2 linked regions of the Homo sapiens genome follow. The protein of the gene in region 2 purifies or fractionates together with the protein of the main gene of each other region. This does not show direct contact. Each region holds a gene or a part of one and is shown on either strand. Other genes may lie near its edges.

Region 1 (4,483 bases), on a different chromosome or scaffold from region 2:
AGCACACTGTAGTTATAACTTACAAAATTCTCTCCCAAAACTGGGAGAATACAGTCAGAAAAAACAAACAAAAAACTACTATACCAAGCACCATGATAGTACAGAATACTTAGGAGGAGGGAAGTATCACAACCCTCAGAGTAGAGACCTAGCTCTAATTTTTTATAAGGTATATAACTTAGAAGAACCTTACCACTGTCATCAACACCATCAGTTGTTTATAAGACAGTACATTATTCATAAATGTGCTTATAACTCACCGACTGACATGTCACTATTCTGAACTTCATGGTTGTCCAGATGATAAACACAATGGATGCTAACAGTAAATGAAAAACCAGGTCAGAGTATGAATGCTGGTTTACATCCCCAATTACATTCCCCCATTTCCGGTTAAGTGGAATCCCACACACCCCGAACCCCCAAATACATCACAACTCTATCAGTTATTTTAACAAATGTATTCAATACAAAAGGACTGTATACCTGCTATCAGCAAGGCTCATGATACATACTCTGGCCAATCCTTTCTCTATTTAAAGAATAATTTGGTAATAATGTTATTTGCCATCTGGCTACATCAGTAACCAGTGTGGTTGGAAAATAAGGTATTGGAAATATAGCTCTTTCCAGCATTATCAATATAATTTTTTTCTCCTTTTATCCTTAGTATAGTAATGCTAATTTTTCTTTGGCTGGTCAGATGAAAAAAAATGGCTGATAAAACGACTGTAACACAAACAGAAGAGCTAGTTCCAATCATAAATCAGACCTCACTATTCCTGGTACAAGGGTCAGGAGGTAGGCAAATTAGCCTAGTTTGGTTACAGTCCACCTAATGTCAATTTTTTACATATGCTTGCTGACATATGTAAAACCACTATAATAGCAATGCACCCTAAAATTCTACAACTATTTAATAAAACTAAACAAACATGTGGTAATGTCTTCTAAAAGGAGTACTCTCTGGCACTTAAGCTAACTAACCTCAAGAAAAAGAATGCCTCAAGAAAGAATGCAAATAGAAGAGGGATAAATGAAGAGCTGAAATATGAGGTTGATTTCCAGCTACTGTACATAAAATAAATGGTTCTCAACTTTTTAAAAACCACAGATCCTTCTGAGAATTTGACAAGAGCTAAGAACCCTTTTCCAAGTGAAATATACAAAACTTTCTATGTCCACCCATGGCCTTTCAGGTTAAGAATGTCCATTCTAAACAGATCACATTTGAACTCCAAGAAGAAAGTCCCAGACTTACCTGCCACTGCCAAAATAAGCGTGTTGGTGAAATGCCGATACAAAGAGAGTTTTACAATGTTCCTCCGAAGTTTTAATAGCTTCATTGTTTGAGTCAGGCTAATAAATATGTGTTTGCAGGTCAAGGAATTCAACATTCAGGAAAAAACAGTAAGCTAGCCAATTAGTTTTCAGGTTTCTTTAAGGATCTGGGGTCATGCCAATAAACTTATAGATCTCTCAGAGGCCTTATAGCTCTCTTATTCTCACTTAATCTCACAAACACCTCAAGATGAATAAGAAAGTCATCATTTTATTTTCTTTTCCTTTTTTTTTTGTGAGGCAAGGTCTAGCCCAGGCTAGAGTGCAGTGGCACAATCACGGCTCACTGCAGCCTTGACCACTGAAGCTCAAGCGATCCTCCCACCTCAGCCTCCCAAGCAGCTGGGACTACAGGCATGTGCCACCATGCCTGGCTAATTTTTAAATTTTTTTGTAGAGATAAGGTCTCGCTATGTTGCTCAGGCTGGTCTTAAACTCCTGACCTCAACTGATCCTCCTGCCTTGGCCTCCCAAAGTGCTGGCATTACAGGCACGAGCCACCATACCTGGCCGGAAGTCATCATTTTCAATGAGACATTAAAGAGAAGACAGAACCAGAATAAAGTAAGAATGTACAAAATCACAAGAGAAAAAATATAAAAAAGAGAAAGGAAGAGGCTTTCTAGAGAAACAAAAAAAAAAGACAGAAAATAAATAGAGAAATGGCAGAAGATAAAGTGAACATGAGTAACAGGCAAGGGACAAAGAGTTAACATCATCTTCTCTCTCCCTTTAAGGTGGGTAGCTCTGTTCTCATCTGTCCAGCAAATCTAGTTGAGGGTCATAATTATACTCGTGCCTATAATCTCCCAGAGATCTACACTCAGTCCCCTCATGCCATCTTAAGGAACCTGCCATCAGTTGCCTGCACTATCCTGAATTAAGAGGACCTTACAATTGGTTGAGAAGCTCATATGGTTTGCTTCCAAAAGCAATGACTCTCCATTTTCAGAACATTATTCTCAAGTAGAAGTTGCCAGAGAAAAACAGGAGGGGAATTGGTGACTACTAAAAATGGTATCTGCTCTCACGTTCAATGTTCTTTTCTTTTTGAGACAGGGTCTCACTCTGTCACTCAGGCTGGAGTGCAGCGGTGCGATCTCGGCTCACTGCAACCTCCGCTTCCAGGGCTCAAGCAATTCTCCTGCCTCAGGCTCCCGAGCAGCTGGGACTACAGGTGCAAGCCACAATGCCTGATGAATTTTTGTATTTTTTGTAGAGATAGGGCTTCGCCATGTTGCCCAGGCTGGTCTCAAACTCCTGAGCTTAAAGCAATCTGCCCATCTCAGCCTCCCAAAGTGCTGGGGTTACAGGCATGAGCCACTGCACCCGGCTCAATTTTCAGAATGAGAAGCAGATACAAAAATAAGGGATTTGGCACTTGCTCTGCCCTTACAGAGCCGTAGCTGTTACCTAGTCATTGGGTTATCTTACTGTACAATCCATTCCCACCTCCCTCTTCTCTCAACGCTTGCAGAGGTTCACAAAACACTTAGAAAGATACTAATCTAGAAAAGCTTTGGCTATTTAGTCCAAGGACACTTTAACTGAAAACTCTTATACAGCAACCCACTCAAATTCACAAAACAATTTTGTTTACATTCACAGTTTTTCAACAGTCACAATCTATCAGGTCAGTAATAATGAAAACTGCTAATAGGACCAAATATATAAAAACCAAAACAAATTCAATAAGATAAAGTCCAAAAACTTGAATCCTTTAGCCATCAGGCCAAGCCCCTAATATATAAATTTAATTTTAAAGAGCAGGAGAAAAAGATTGCTCAAATAGAAGCTTGTTTGTTATCTGCTGGTTGACTCTGCCTGTAAATGAATCAATTATTTATTCTGAAGGGTGGAAATCTTCAAACAATTCCAAGCCAGCTTTTGAATGAGGCAAGAAAACACTCACTCCATAAGGGTTAAAACCTGCTGAACATACAGAGTTTCAGAAAAGTCAAAGCACCTTACATAGTTCCTGAAATCAAATTTTAAGGATCAAAATCTTTTCATAAGTTTCAAAGCATTTAAGAATTGCTAGAGGCTAAAAGGCAGAGCAGGACCAGCACAGCCAGTGACTCTAACACTAAATGATTAGGTACACAAACAAGAAGTGCAAAATCAAGATGAAATGCTCACTTAAAAGAAAAAAGCCAAAAGATTTTATCTCGAGCTCGGTCCACAGTCACCAATTTCCAATTTGATTTTTAAAATTAAAAAAATAGAAACAAAAAAAACTGCTTACCTGAACCCTCAGGTTGTTAAGACTTAGCATGCACTGTTCCCCACACTAAGGAGTAATTAACAAAACTGATAAAAACTCTTTGCAGAAAGATCAATGGAAACCCATCTCAAGGGGAGAAAATGGACCATCATCAAACAAGCCAATGAGAAGGATATCCACCAGCACAAGGCAGTGTCTAGGAAAGCCAAGGGGATAAAGGCCAAGGAAGCAAGATCAGTCTGGGCCTGCAGACAAAGAAAAAGAAGTGGTGAAAAACAGATGTCTAGAGAGGCACAGAGAAGAAACCACCACATGATTCTGCATTTACATAATCACTGGAAAGTTTTTGCATTGAACTGAAAGAAAATAAAAAGAACATTTGACACCTAATCATTCTTCCCTTCTTATAAACCATCACATAGAATATACAGCTATAAGCATTTCACATAAATTGTCATTTACAATCTCGAAACATACTGCTAAGTACGAGTTTTTCATATATAAAGATCCATGTTAACAAGTGACCATATTCCAAAAAAGTTCTAATGTTTATAAGCCCCATCCTTAATCTATCATTTCCTATTATTGCAATTTTGGCTACAAGTCTGAAAAGACTTTTCTCGTATTTAAAAAAAATTACTGCATCATATACAAAGAATTATTAATTTCTAAAATTATAATATTTTACAAATAAGAGCTCACCCCAAAATAAAATGTAAGGCAATTATCTGTCTGAAAAACTATGCTGCATGTTTCCAGGAGTTTATATAGAGTATGTTTTTTATATAACCCTAATTACCCAATCAACAGGCATTACTGAAAGGATATCCATAAAATAACACAGGCGTCAATTGCTGAGAGGGCCAGGTTTACTATCAGAGTCAAGGGATAAGAAAAATACTATAGCAACAGCAGAAG
Region 2 (4,510 bases):
TTACTGTCATTCTGGGAGGCCTTGGGGCCCTCAGCCCCTTGAGACACCCTGATTCTGCTGCATGCCAAGGGCCTGTTCTGCCCCAGCTGTTCCTCCTCCCCTGGGGACAGCCCCACCTCCGGGTCCCTCCACCCACATCCCCCTGGTCCTACCCCTGGCCCTTGGCCTCCTCCAAGAGGGCTCACCCCGGGTGCTGCTCTGTGCTCTGCGTGTCCCACAGACGCTTGTTCCAGGGGGCTCCAGCAAACCCCTTCGTGGTCTCTCAAAGGACTGATCACTGTCCTTGCCTCTAGGAGGGGTCACTAAGCCCTTACCTAGGGCTGGGTGGACAACAAGGCACAGATGAGGGTGTGACTGGCCCGAGGTCACGGTGAGTGAGTGGCAAAGCTGGCCCTGACGCCTGGGTTTCTTGGCCCCAGCTGCCCAGCAGGTGCCTCGATTCCCTGCCCTTGTGACCTCCCAGGAAACAGAACTGATCTGGGACACTATGTCACCTCTCCTCTCATCTGGGGTCAGTCAGGGTTCGGGGGCTGCAGCAGCCAAGCGCATGAGAGGTGTTTCCTTGGCCTTCCAGAAGGCCCACTGTGGAGCCAGCCTCCCTATGGGAGGCAGAGCGGCAAGGACAGGGCTTTGGAATCAGCCAGGTCGGCTCCTGGGCTGTGGCCGTGGAGAGACACTGCCCCCAGGATGACACAGGCAAGAGCCCCTGAGGCATGGGAGGCCCAGGGAAGACCATGGGCTGTAGGGGAGAGTGTGGCAGGTGACCCAAAGGCCCAAAGAGGGCCGTGGGGCCTGAGGAGGTCATAATCTCTTCTGAGTGGGGGCAGGTCGATTCTTGCACAAGGTGGGCTCTTCACTGAGCCATAAGGGACAGGGAGGTATGGGAGAGCGCTGGGGGCCCATCCCCCTGTCCACCCAGTGTCCACTGGCCTGTCCTTCAGGGAGCAGAGCAGAGCAGGTGGTGGACGGGCCCAGTGCTGGGTGTTTTCACCACCATCCCCCCATCCCCCATCTAAGAATCCTAAGAGGCAGGCGATCCCTCACCTGCTTACTCACTCAGCAGTTACCCGGCCCCTGTGCTGGAGATACCAAGGGCATGGGTGGTCCCTGCTTCGATGGCCCCAAAGCTGGGCCAGAGTTAAGGGAAAGAGGAGGAAGTCCTAAGCAGAGAAGTAGCACCATTATCCCCATTTAACAGAAGGGAAACTGAGGCTCGGCAAGCATAGGCGAGTTGGCAGTGGAACACGGATCTAAACTCAGGTGTGTCCAAGTCCTCCCAAAGGACAGCAGTGATGGAGAGGACCCCAGCCAGCTGTGTGACAGCTGGTTGTTGCTGACTTCATTTTCCAATCCGGAGAAGGGGCTCTGTCCACAGTCCCCCGCCGCCAGGTGGCCCACATGGGACCAGCATGGGGGCAGGTTATCTGTTGGCCTGAAGAGTGAAACCTGTACCAGGCCAAAGGTGAGGGCGTGAGTGAGGGCAGGAGTGTTTATGGCAGAGTGAAGTTCTGTGCCCACCACAAGAGGCTGTGAGATGTTCTGACCCTCACCCACTGTCCACCAAAAGCCTCTCCTGCTGATGGGCACTAGGAGACCTCAGGGTACTGCCCATCTGTTTCTCCTCGGGTGCCAGCCAGCTGCTGGTGATCCTCAGCCGGAGGGCAGGGTACCAGGTAAGCTTAACTCCATCTTGGGTGTTTGTGACAGGCCCTGCCTGCCACCCTAGGCAGGGAAAGCTGTCAAGACTCCTGCCAGGAATGGGGGGTGCTGAGTCATCTCACGAAGAATCCCTCACTCTTCCCGGGTTCAGCCCAGAAGCCCTTCCAGGCATGATCTTCCCCATCAGGCTGGGCTCTGGCAGGGACCTGCCCAGGATGGAGATGAGAGAGGGTGAGAGATGGAGGGCGAGATTTGGATGGGACCCAGGGCTCCTGACTCTGCCCTGGAAGGTTCATGGGGAAACTCGCTCCTTCTGTTGGCAGAGGACAGCCCCTGGGGAACCCCAGGCCCAACTCTGTCCGGTATCCCTTTTCCTCCCAGCTGCCCTCCCCTACTTCTCCCTTGCTCCCAAAGCTTTCCTTGGAGAAGGGCCCTCCTGCAGCTGGACCCTGCAGGGTGGCTCCCTCCTCCCCATCAAGCACAAGAGAGGGCCCAGGAAAAAAGGTTTCACATAAGTGTAGAGTCGCAAGGACGCTTAGAGTCGGCAGAGTCTGGGGTAGGGAGACAGCGACTTGTCCAAGGTCAAGCACAGAGGGAGAGGTTCAGGAGTCAGGTCTTCTGCCTTCTGAGTTGGCTCATCCTGGGCAGTCACAGACTGTCCTGCCTGCACGGCTCCTATCCACCTGGGGGTGTCGCAGTTGAGGGGCTAATTCCCAGGGGACTGACGTTAGTTCCCTACTCCATCCTTCCCTGGTGATTCTTGATCTTCAAAGCCTCGGGGATCCCAGGTTTCCCCATGTAACTGAGACACCCTGCCTGTTAGCCCTGGGAGACCCCTAACCTTGGCCCAAGACCCCTTTGATTCTCTAAGGAGCACGAAAGGGGGAATGCCCCTCCCAGGAGTTTATGGGAGAAGGGACTGGGCCGGCTGCCTCCCAGCGATGCACTTGACCTGACACTCCCCATGTCCTGGTGCGCACAGCCCTTGTCGGTGCCCCGGCCCCTCCCGCAGCGTTACTGCCTGTGTATAGTATAAATATATATATTTTCTATATATAAGATGTATAATATAAGGCTCCACAAATATATCTGTGTGTGTGTGTGCGTGTGTGTGCGGTGAAGGGCGGTCCCCATCCTGGGCCCCCACTCTAGACCCCCCCACCACCTGGTTAAGTCTCGAGTGAATCCAGTGGCCCCGTGGCACCCTCCTTTATGACATCCATCCATCTGTGGTGAACCAAGTGAAGGTGGTGACTTCTGGTGACATAGTAATAAAGTGAAGACTCAGAACCCACCAGCGATTGCAAGTGTGTCACCGTGTTTCTTTGTTCTTCATTCTGCGTTTGGCTTGGATGCTCCATCCCGTTTGTCTCCTTAGACAGGCCATGTCTTACTTGGTTATTATTGTTTGTTAATTTTTCATTACACAATGAACCTATGAATATATTATCTTTTTAAAAAGTAAAATTGGCCGACTGCAGTGGCTCATGCCTGTAATCCCAACACTTTGGGAGGCCAAGGTGGGTGGATCACCTGAGGTTAGGAGTTCGAGACCAGCCTGACCGACATGGTGAAAACCTGTCTCTACTAAAAATACAAAAAAAAAAAAAAATTAGCCGGGTGTGGTGGCAGACGCCTGTAATCCCAGCTACTCGGGAGGCTGAGACAGGAGAATCACTTGAACCGGGGAGGCAGAGGTTGCAGTGAGCCAAGATTGTGCCATTGCACTCCAGCCTTGGCATCAAGAGCAAAAATCCATCTAAAAAAAAAAAGGAAAATTATTACAGTTGAAGCCAGAGTCTCTTAGCTTACATGTGCACATGTCCACATACATGCCCCATCACCATTTCCTATCCTGGTTCCTTCCCCAACCACCAGGAGTAAACAAGATTAGATGCTTGGCCTCATTCCTTCCAGACCATTTCCATGCTTTTACATACACATGTTTTACAAGACATGGTTTTTAAATTGACTGGCCTTCAGCTGGGTGCCATGGCTCATGCCTGTAATCCCAGCACTTTGGGAAGTCAAGGTGGAAGGATTGCTTGAGCCCAGGAGTTCAAGACCAGCCTGGTCAACATAGTGAGACCCCGTGTCTAAACAAAACAAAACAAAAAACCTGGGCACAGTGGCTCACACCTATAATCCTAGCACTTTGGGCAGCCTAGGCGGGCGGATCACGAGGTCAAGAGACTGAGACCATCCTGGCCAACATGGTAAAACTCCGTCTCTACTAAAAAGACAAAATTAGCTGGGCGTGGCTGGGCGTGGTGACTCACACCTGTAATCCCAGCACTTTGGGAGGCTGAGGTGGGCAGATCACCTGAGGTCGGGAGTTTGAGAACAGCCTGACCAAAATGGAGAAACCTCGTCTCTACTAAAAATACAAAATTAGCCAGGCGTGGTGGCACGTGCCTGTGATCCCAGCTACTCGGGAGGCTGAGCCAGGAGAATTGCTTGAATCCAGGAGGTGGAGGTTATAGTGAGCCAAGATCATGCCATTGCACTCCAGGCCTGAGCAACAAGAGCAAAACTCCATCTAAAAAAAAAAAAAAAAAAAAAAATTAGCTGGGTGTGGTGGCCAGCACCTCTAGTCCCAGCTACTCTGGAGGCTGAGGCAGGAGAATCGCTTGAACTCGAGAGGCAGAGGTTGCAGTGAGCCAAGATCACGCCACTGCACTCCAGCCTGGCGACGGAGTGAGACTCCGTCTCAAAAAAAAAAAATTAAATATAGTTGCCCCGAGCCGGCAAAAAATTTACCCAGAGCCTGTAAAGTACCAGAAACTTGCTAGGCGCTAGGAGTTCAACACCAAAGGAGGTAGACAGTGCCCTCTTGGAGATGATCACGCAG

The links. The genes of interacting proteins can lie anywhere in the genome.
Region 1: the proteins of SYNGR1 (region 2) and TMEM87A purify together in Homo sapiens (affinity purification with mass spectrometry; one large-scale study listed by BioGRID and IntAct). This does not show direct contact.

The regions. Positions count from the first base shown.
Region 1 is NC_000015.10:42,227,451-42,231,933, forward strand, and holds part of TMEM87A (transmembrane protein 87A isoform 1 precursor), read right to left. Parts: intron 4,466-4,483; coding exon of another isoform or gene 4,394-4,465; intron 3,811-4,393; coding exon 3,742-3,810; exon of another isoform or gene 3,672-3,741; intron 1,371-3,671; coding exon 1,262-1,370; intron 320-1,261; coding exon 261-319; intron 1-260. UniProt on the Homo sapiens protein: Potential monoatomic ion channel gated by mechanical force, implicated in normal touch sensitivity through the generation of mechanically activated currents.
Region 2 is NC_000022.11:39,382,623-39,387,132, forward strand, and holds the end of SYNGR1 (synaptogyrin-1), read left to right. Parts: 3' UTR 1-2,953; downstream 2,954-4,510. UniProt on the Homo sapiens protein: May play a role in regulated exocytosis. Modulates the localization of synaptophysin/SYP into synaptic-like microvesicles and may therefore play a role in synaptic-like microvesicle formation and/or maturation.